Regions from separate parts of the Homo sapiens genome. Here region 1 is linked to region 2. Evidence: fine-mapped QTL for protein levels in blood plasma. A gene starts in region 2. The other region holds a variant in brackets. All regions are shown on one strand. Distances are from middle to middle.

Region 1 (5,399 bases), 160 kb before region 2:
TTCATTGCACAAATACATGCTTGCTTTGTTTTACCTGTGAGTCAAAGGATTAGGCTGCATGATATTTTCATTCTCTTTAGTTTTTTAGTTCCTCAATCCACACACATTTTATATAATGCTTACGATTATACATTTATCTCATAATTTTTTTCTCATTCTTTAAACTATGAGAACAAGGAAAATGGCATTCATTTTCATTGTTTGAGAACAAGTTGTGATTTTATATTAGTCGTTGCAGAAGGTGGGAAGAAAGCGAGGATGGGCTAACTCACCACCACCATTTTCCCATCCACCAGCTTTCTCGTTATGGTGGTTTCTTTGCCATCCCAGTCCTGAACTTGAATCAGGGACTCCTTATCTAAGGTTACTTTACTCTGAAAAACAGAAAAAACTAAATTCAGATCAGCTTGTCATATTTCAACATTAAAATTTTATCAGGCAGCAAATTCTTTTTAGCTGTTGTAATACTCTCAGGTAGTTTTAGAATGGTATTGACAACTCTATTTATTTTAAGACTTTGTCAGCAGTAAAATTGTTGCCTAATTCTGCTGAAGAAAAAAGGTTTTACAAGAGTAAAACTGTAATATTATCTTGAAGAATAAGTAAAATGTTCTTTCTTTTTCTTTTTTTTTGAGACAGAGTTTTGCTCTTGTCACCCAGGCTGGAGTGCAATGGTGCGATCTTGGCTCACTGCAACCTCCGACTCTCTGGTTCAAGCAATTCTCCTGCCTCAGCCTCCCAAATAGCTGGGATTACAGGCACATACCACCACGCCCAGCTAATTTTTGTATTTTTAGTAAAGACGGGGTTTCACCATGTTGGCCAGGATGGTCTTGAATCTCCTGACCTTGTGATCTGCCCACATTGGCCTCCCAAAGCACTGGGATTACAGGCATGAGCCACCACACCCGGCCATGAAATGTTCTTTTTATCTTTGACTGTGTAAGCAGAGTATTATCTTTTTGCATAAAGAATTACAAATACATTTTAACTTTCAAAATAAGTGTGAAACTCCAGCCTGGACAGCACAGTGAGACCCCCATCTCCATAAAAAATAATAAATTAGCCAGGTGTTGTGGCACATGCCTATAGTCCCAGCTACTTGGGAAGTTGAGGTGGGAGAATCACCTGAGCCTGGGTGGTTGAGGCTACAATGAGCCAAGATTGTACCACCGCACTCCAGCCTGGGCAACAGAGACCCTGTCTCAATAAAGAATAATAATAATAATAATACATGTGAAACTAATTCAAACTCCCATTATATGAGCTTACTTAAAAGAAAGAAGGCCTCTTTCCTCTTCTTATCCCAATAATATTTTCCAGTTTTTTTTGTTGTTGTTGTTGTTTTTGGAGATAGGGTATCACTGTGTCATCCAGGCTGGAATGCAGTGGTGCAATCATGGCTCACTGTAGCTTCAACCTCCTGTGCTCCAGCAATCCTCCCACCTTAGCCTCCTGAGTAGCTGGAACTATAGGCACGCACCACCACAGTGGCTAATCTTTGTGTTTTTTGTAGAGGCGGGATCCTGCTATGTTGTTCAGGCTGGTCGTAGACTCCTGGCATCAAGCAATCCTCCTGTTTTGGCCTCCCAAAGTGCTGGGATTACAGGCATGAGCTACCGCACCCAACCTAGCTTTTTTATTCTAGTAGATTTTTAAGAATTTAGCATAGAAATCCATATTAAGCATTTAAGTCAAAAATTTTCTTCCATTTTATATGGTACAAGAATTTAAACTCTCATATTCATTTAGTAACTATTACAGTGGCATGATAGTTCCTTTTATCAGGATATTATCCTCCATATAGTTTAACAATCCTCTATTGAGTTCATTCATTCAAATAATAAATATTTATTGAACAACTGTCATGACCAAGCACGGGGTTCTGTGAAACAGACAGGAAATCCTGTTTTGGATGAGCTCTTACATTCTGGTGTAGGGAAAAAGACTGTAAACAATACGTGTAGAAGTAAATTACATATTATAAATAAATAATATATTCCTGAGATATGTGCCCTTGAGATATGAATGAAAACTCTGTGTGGCACTTTCAGGGTGAGACAATAAAAAGCCCATGTCTCTTTATCCTGGTGTTGGAGAAGACCAGGATGTCCACAGGTGGTAGTTGAACCTCTTTTGGCATGGATCCCTGAGAGATTAGGGGGAGCAGATTTCCTGTTTACTCCACTACACACACACAAACTTCCCCAATGCCACCCAACACTACGTATGTACTATAAGTTAGAAATAAATCCCCATTGTGTTAACTCACTCCAGGCTTGTGGTTCATTGTCACGGTGGCATAACCTTACCTCTGCCAGCTAATACGAGGTTTATTCACTGTAATTCTATGTGTAGAAAACTGCTACAAAATGGATAGGGAAAACTTTTGTTTCTGAGAGGACTAAACAGTAATCTAGGGAAATGATTCTCAAAATGTGGTCTGCTAAGCGTCTGCATCAGATTCATTAAAAATGCAATTTTCAGGGCCTCTGGCAGTGAGCAGGAGGCATTTTTCACAAGCATCCCAGAAGATTTGTATCTTCACATTGACATCCTTAGACCTATGTTTTAGA[C/G]AAAAGTTCCTCTTAAGGACTTTAGATATGTTTGCTAGAATTGCTTACTTACCGAGGATGATATCTGACTAACATTCTTTTGAAATGTGTCTGAAAGACTGTCGTAGGCCTCACCTTTGTTTTGTGGCCACCTGGCGTGATTTCCTCAAACTCTTCTCCCAGCTTAAAGGAGATCTCATTATTTTTAAAGATGCTTTTGGTTTTTATTGTGATGACATCTCCATCTGTACTGATGGTCACAGTGGGTTTTGCCAAACGGCCCAGTTTCCTGCTGGCTCTTCCTATACCTGGAAACCAGATAAAAGGAGTATTATCTTTTTGCATAAAGAATTACAAATACATTACATTACAATACAATACTTAAATCTGTTGTTGACTCCAAAAACTCAACATTATCTGTATAATTCTTTGCTAACTAGGAGGTTTGCGAATTGAACAGATTTAATGGTGCATGACTTCACATATCCCAAGCCAGCAGCTCCACCATGACATGTTAAAATAGACTATCTTTGCAGAAAAAAAATCTGTCTCTAGTTGTTGTTTAGTGAGTATTCTTTTTCACTAGTCCAGTAGCTATTAATCTTACTGATTTTTGAACCCCTTTGAAAATCTGATTAAAGCTATCAACTATCTCCCTATTTTAAAATTATATCCACTCACATACAAACAAAATACTTTGGTATGGATTTTGCCAGATATTTAGCTCTTCACTTGTATTCTTACATGTATATATATATGGGTTTGTTTCCTCAATGATGTATGTTTTTATTGTGGTAAAATATTTATAACATATATTTACCATTTGAAGTTACAATTCAGTGGTATTGAGAACATCACAATGTTGTGCAAGCATCACCATTATTTATAGGATTTTAAAAAATATGTTATATCTACTGTTTTTCAACTTGCTTTTTCCCCTTATCTTGTCTTGGAAGTTTTCCCCTTATCTATGTCTTGAAAATTTTCCATGTCACTCTATATAGATATATACTTTTTCATAGTACATAATATTCCACAGTGTGTATAGACCAAAATTTATTTTGTCTGTCTCCCTGTTGATGAACAATTCATTTGTTTCCATTTTGGTTATTACAAATAATTATGCAGTGAACATCCTTGTATACACAGCTCTGTGCAGCACATGTAGGAGTATTTTCAGTAGAAATAGCATTACATATACTGCAATACCTAAGTTAAAATTCTAAGGGAAGATATATTGGGAAAATACTATAATGTAGTTCATGGAATTCATATCATAAAACACAATCACAGGATGTGACAGATTGGATAATGGTTCCTAAAGATATTCACGTCTTAATCCCTGGAACCTGTGAATGTTACCTTTACATGTTAGGAGACTGTACAGATGTGGTTAATTTAAGGATCTTGAGATGGGGAGAGTATCCTGGATTATCAGAGCAGATCTCAAACATAATCATAAATTTCCTTTTAAGAGGGAGGAAGAGGGATGCTATACTACAGAAGAAGAGAGAGCAGTGTGAAAATGGGAGCAAAATTTGGAGCATTGCTGGCACACACTAAGGAAAGCCAGTAGCCAGCAGAGGCTGAAAAACAAAATCTACTCTGAACTTTATTCTGAAGATCCCCTAAAGCTTAGAGCAAACATTTACAAAATAATCATTTTAAAAAATAGTTGTATTTTTTTGTTTTAAAACATTTATTAAAATCACTTGCTGTTTAGTTAGTTTATGTAAATTAATGGTAACTTATATGAGAGATTATTGTCAACTCCAACATAGTTTTGCACAGAACTATATCCTGGTACTCAATCAATATTTATTTTTTCCTATGTGAAAAATTAGGGAGTTCAAGATTAATATTATTTTATACAGAGCAAGTTCTGTGCTATCAAAATGCCCATTTTTACTGGATATGATATGCAAGTAAACATAGCTCACCCAGCTCCTTCATGTAGTCTTCGGAATTTTCACAAGAAATGGACTTCCATGTTCCTTGGAGCTGGTCAATCATTCTGTCTGAGATAAGTTGATCTCAAAGAACAGTAGTTTCATGTGTATGCTGGTTTTCCCTGAAGTAGTATGGGAACTTGTTTTTAATACAATTTTGGGTAGAGAATGAGATGAGAAAAGTTAGGAAATAAAATAAGGAACTCTAATCCTTGCAATGTTCCTTGAGTATCATCTAAAGCAGAAAAGCTTTCTTAAATTTAAATACATCAGGATGAAAATGGAAACACAGTAGAGTGTTTAGCAGAACTAGATATACCTTTTCCAACACCAATTTAGCATCAAAACTAAATGTTACTTTCCTTCCCTAGGACCTGCCAGGCACAAAGCAGTGTGTAAGAGCTGGGCCTGGACAGCTGTGTTTATGCCGTGGAACTTTTGTGCCCAGGTCTCTCTCTCTGTCTGTCCAAAGATGATTCAGAAAAAGCCAATTTATTGGCTGTTTGAAGATCATTCTCATTCTTGATAGTTTCAACTAAACACCAGACAGACTTCATAGATGGTACTTGACATTTGAAGTAAAAAGTTAAGTTTAGTAAGGGCTAGAACAACCACTTTAAGTCATGTGCACAATGAAAAAGAGAATGGGACAGAGAAAAAAGAAAGGAAAGAGATCATGTTACAAACACATGCACACACACACACACACACACACACAGCCCTGTTACTGACACTTTTCCAGGTGCCAGCTCAACTTCCCAACGGTTTAGAGAGCCATCATTGCCATGAGAACACCAAATATCTTTTAAGTCCTCTTTAATTTAGGCTACTTTCTGTTCCTTTCAACCCTGACTGTAAAATCTCAGTGTCCACTAATAACTGTAAGTCAGAACAG
Region 2 (5,399 bases):
CCTCTCTGTCCAGCATTCCTTTCTCCTGTATATGGGGCAAGACCCCTTGTGAAATGGAGGTCTTACGATCTACAGTCAGACAAGGTAGGTCAGAGAATTTCTTCATGGCTAGTTCTAAGACAGAAAGGTGGGCCAAGATTCCTGTCAAGGGCTATGGGAGTTATGAGCCAGGAATGGTGGATGCAAACTATATATATATATATATACACACACACACACATACACACATACACACACACACACACATACACACACATACACATATATAATACAGTAAATATACTTTATATACTATATATTTAGATACTATATATAGTATATATACCATACATAAGTATATTTAGATACTATATATAGTATACCATACATAAGTATATTTAGATACTATATATAGTATATATACCATACATAAGTATATTTAGATACTATATATAGTATATATACCATACATAAGTATATTTAGATACTATATATAGTATATATACCATACATATTTAGATACTATATATAGTATACTATACATAAGTATATTTAGATACTATATATAGTATACTACACACAGTATCTTTAGATACTACAGTATACTACACATAAGTATCTTTAGATACTATGTGTAGTATATATACTACACATAAGTATCTTTAGATACTAATGTGTAGTATATATACTACACATAAGTATCTTTAGATATATATATCTAGTATATATATACTACACATAAGTATATATACTACACATAAGTATATATACTACACATAAGTATATTTAGATACTATGTGGAGTATAAATACTACACATAAGTATATTTAGATACTATGTGGAGTATATATACTACACATAAGTATATTTAGATACTATGTGGAGTATATATACTACACATAAGTATATTTAGATACTATGTGGAGTATATATACTATACATAGTATCTATGTGTAGTATATATACTATACATAAGTATATTTAGATACTATGTATAGTATATATACTATACATAAGTATATTTAGATACTATGTATAGTATATATACTATACATAAGTATATTTAGATACTATGTATAGTATATATACTATACATAAGTATATTTAGATACTATATATACTATACGTAAGTATATTTAGATACTATATATAGTATATATACTATACATAAGTATATTTAGATATATATACTATAAATAAGTATATTTAGATACTATATATAGTATACATTAAGTATATTTAGATACTATATATAGTATATATACTATACATAAGTATATTTAGATACTATATATACTATACATAAGTATATTTAGATACTATATATACTATACATAAGTATATTTAGATACTATATATACTATACATAAGTATAGATACTATATATAGTATATATAGTATATATACTATACATAGTATATTTATGTACTATACATATAGTATATTTATATACTATATGTAAGTATATATGTAAGTATATTTATGTACTATATATAAGTATATATACCTAAGTATATTTAGGTACTATATATAAGTATGTATACCTAAGTATATTTCTGTACTATATATAAGTATATATACCTAAGTATATTTCTGTACTATATATAAGTATATATACGTAAGTATATTTCTGTACTATATATAAGTATATATACGTAAGTATATTTATGTACTATATATAAGTATACAGAAGTATATTTATGTACTATATATAAGTATATATACTATACATAAGTATATTTATGTACTATATATAAAGTATATAAGTACATTTTATATATATTTTTATATATAGTTATATATAATATATGAATAGTTATATATATATAAATCACAGTACATTTATTGATGGGCAGGGTCCGTAGTTTACTCACTTTCATTTTCCCAAAGCCATAAACACCTGAACTGTTTCCTGCTGTTTCTGTCCTGGTCACAGCCTTCCAGCGTAGGAGCCAGGCCACCTTCCTTTTTGCCACCTGTCCCAGCACCGCGACTGCGGGCAGCACAGGACCTGGGCGCTGCCCCATCACTTAGAGTGACTACCTGGGCCTGGGGATGCACCAAGTTTCTAGGAGCTTTTCGGAGTTGGGGACATAAAAAGGGGCAATTATTCCACAGAAGCCGCCACAGAGGTTAAGTGAGGTCGCGTGAGCGAACCGCTACTCCAATGCCGGAACTGTTCCCGGTCGCCCAGGGCAGCTCCGGATAACGCAGCAGGCAGGGGTCACCCAGAGGCTGCCTCCACCCTAGGCGCCGACCGCGCACGGCGCTCGCGCCCGCTCCTGAGGAGGGAAGGGGCCTCCCTGGAAACCCACAGCGCCCGCTGAACCCGGAGGGTGCGGTGAGGAAAATAACGGTCTCACCTTGAGTCGGAGGACGTCCGGCTAGCTCTGTGAACGGTGTTACCGCACTCGTCTCTTCCGGAGGTAGAGGGGCTACTCGCAACAGGAAGTTCCGCCCTTAAAAACTCCATTCCTGAGGGGGCGTGGTTGCTTTGCTGGGCCCCGCCCCGAGCTGCGCCCTGCGAGCCTCTGCCAGGCCGGGCCGGGTCCTGACCCGCGCTGGAGCATGGGATACTGCCTCTTCATTCTAGCTTCTGGTTCTTTTCTCCTGCTTGTCTTTTCATCTCTCAGTTTTTAAACATTACTTCTCTCTTTACTTTGCCTTTTTCTTCTTTCGTCCTCCATTCATTCACGGTTTCCCATTTAGCTTGCTTTCTTCTTTCTCCCATTTATTCTATAGTACTATTTTGACAAAACCCAGATTGCAGATATGATTCCGATTATGCAGCTTTTAGGTGCTAACCTAAAGCTGGTAAACCTATACTAGATTAAAAAAAAATAAACTGATAACCAGAACCAACTGCCCAATTCTTGATAATTTACTTACATACTATTTATTGAGGACTTACTATGCTTCAAGCAATTGTGTGGGGTTTTATTGTTTTGTTTTTTTGAGACGGAATTTCACTTTTGTCGCCCGGGCTGAAGTGCAATGGCGCGATCTCGGCTCACTGCAACGTCCGCCTCTTGGATTCAAGCGATTCTCATGCCTCAGCCTCCTGAGTAGCTGGGATTACAGACGCCTGCCACAACGCCCGGCTAATTTTTGTATCTTGTAGAGACGGGGTTTCACCATGTTGCTCAGGCTGGTCTCAAACTCCTGGACTCAAGTGATCCGCCTACCTCGGCCTCCCAAAGATTACAGGCATGAGCCACCACGCCTGGCCGAAATGTGTTTTTATATGCATTATTTTCCTTAAAGTTTTAACAGTTTCTTGAAAAAGGTATGATTAGCTTTGTCAGACAGATGAGGAAACTGAGGCTCAGAGTAGTTAAGTGATTTGTCCTCAGGTCACACAGCAAGAGCAGAGAGTGAAACACACTGAGTTCAAAGTTTTGGGGTTCAGAAAATGATACCCCACAATGAAGGCCTCAGAAGCAGCCTTAGAAGGAAAAATTTTCCTCTGACTCCTTTTGGTCTCCTGTCTCTGGTCCCACATTCTTCCCCAGACTAGTCATAGAAGCTAGAATTCCTCTTTCCCAAATCAGGTCCCAGAAATCAGGACCCCTTTTTTATAAAGCCAGCCATAAAACATAAAAATACTACTCTAGGCCAGGCAAGGTGGCTCACGCCTGTAATCCCACCACTTTGGGAGGCCAAGGCAGGCGGATCACGAGGTCAGGAGATCGAGACCGTCCTGGCTAACACGGTGAAGCCCCGTTTCTATTAAAAACACAAAAAAATTAGCCGGGTGTGGTGGCTGGCACCTGCAGTCCCAGCTACTCGGGAGGCTGAGGCAGGAGAATGGCATGAACCTGGGAGGTGGAGCTTCCAGTGAGTGGAGATCGCGCCACTGCACTCCAGCCTGGGCGACAGAGGGAGCCTCCGTCTCAAAAAAAAAATATATATATATAGAGAGAGAGATATAGATAGATAGATAGATAGATAGATAGATAGATAGATAGATAGATAGATAGATATTACTCTAGCATTCTCCCTGTGTTTCTATGTAAAATCTGACCACGAAGAAATTATATGACTCACCCTGTCTGAGTTTAGGTCATAAGACCCCCATTCCAAAGAGGGTCCTATGGAGAGAGGCCAAGAAGAATCTAAGCAGACAGGTCTTACTGGATTTCCCCAGTCTAATAGCATTAGGTTATACCCTCTTTGTCCAACCATATTCTACACAGCTGTCCATATGCTGTTGAAACTAAGCATAAAATGGACTGTCCCCTTATACCTTTGGGTCTTCATTCTGAAGGCTCCCAAGTCACATAAAACTATGATCAAATAAAATCCTTTTCTTCTATTTATCTGCCTTTTGTCAGTTGATTTTCACCAAACCTTCAGAGGACAAAAGGGAAGTTTTTTCTTTGGCCCTACAAAAGTTTACACACTGAGAATATATGGCACAATGAGATCACATTATATGAGGTACAAGGACTAGTTATGGTCTTAAAATGTTTCTTCTTCTTGAAAGAGTTGGCCAGGTGCAGTGGCTCATGCCTGTAATCCCATCACTTTGGGAGGCCAAGGCAGGCAGATCACCTGAGGTCAGAAGTTCAAGACCAGCCTGGTCAACATGGTGAAACTCTGTCTCTACTAAAAATACAAAAATTAGCCAGGCATGGTGGTGGGTGCCTGTAATCCCAGCTACGAGGGAGGCTGAGGCAGGAGAATCGTTTGAACCCCGGAGGTGGAGGTTGAAGTGAGCCGAGATAGCGCCATTGCACTCCAGCCTGGGTAACAAAAGTGAAACTCCATCTCAAAAAAGAAAGAAAGAAAGAAAGAAAGAAAGAGCGACATCGTGGTACATACACCATCATAGTGCAAAAAGCATTGCACAGATATAAGATGTCCTAGCTACAACTGGACCAGGAAAGTAAGTTAGTTATTTGGCTCTTTGCTTAGGAAGTTACTGTTTCTGTTTGTTTAATCAAAAGACAAAATGTCACCAATATATTTCAAATGAAATGTCTTAGAGATGAGTAATTTGGACTGGACTCAATTCTCACACCTCACAAGGACCAATAAACATCTTTAATCCAAAAAGAGTGATGCCTTAGGTATCCGGTTTGGATGTCTATCAAATGATACTTTATTTTCTTAGAAAAAAAAAAAAGGCTTCTGAGGCTAGTTTTTCGGTTCTTCATTGCCAATCTTCTTAAAATAAAAATATTGCCAACCGCATGCTGACAAGTGCTCATTCGTAACCAACTAATATTTCCAAAGTTTTAACAGAAAAGTCATCGGTCATCTAAGTTTATGTAAATGAATGTGGTTTCAGTGACTTGAAAAAACTGCTAAAATCAGCATAAACAATTTGAAGTAAAATAAACTAAATATCAAATATCCCTTCAAATGAAAACCTTACAAGCTTCCTATGTCAGGTGAGCAGGAAGTCCAGTTTTTCC

Direction of the effects. Alleles are on the strand shown, and positions count from the first base shown. The strength of an association depends on the size of the effect and on how common the allele is.
With allele G in place of C in region 1, the plasma level of the protein whose gene starts at base 2,416 in region 2 is lower (weak association).

Evidence for each region. A credible set is the group of variants that fine-mapping cannot tell apart. PIP is the posterior inclusion probability: the model's chance that the variant is causal. Protein levels are from antibody-based Olink assays in UK Biobank. Linkage for the fine-mapping came from a reference panel and not from the study's own genotypes, which makes the PIPs less certain.
Region 1: its variant is the best candidate, but not a certain one, in a credible set for the plasma level of the IMPA1 protein (UK Biobank, PIP 0.59).

Annotation. Positions count from the first base shown.
Region 1 is chr8:81,526,748-81,532,146 of GRCh38, forward strand. FABP12 (fatty acid binding protein 12) reads right to left here. Exons shown (of 5, transcript NM_001105281.6): 2 at 4,496-4,643; 3 at 2,691-2,863; 4 at 273-374. The coding sequence starts at 4,568. All of the region lies in intron 3 of LOC101927118 (a long non-coding RNA gene), which reads left to right. Among named protein-coding and RNA genes, the nearest start is that of FABP12, 4.4 kb to the right of the region's middle. The variant C/G (reference allele first, on the strand shown) is at 2,577.
Region 2 is chr8:81,683,910-81,689,308 of GRCh38, forward strand. It overlaps IMPA1 (inositol monophosphatase 1), which reads right to left and starts at 2,416. Exons shown (of 9, transcript NM_005536.4): 1 at 2,343-2,416. RefSeq lists an enhancer at 2,162-2,662.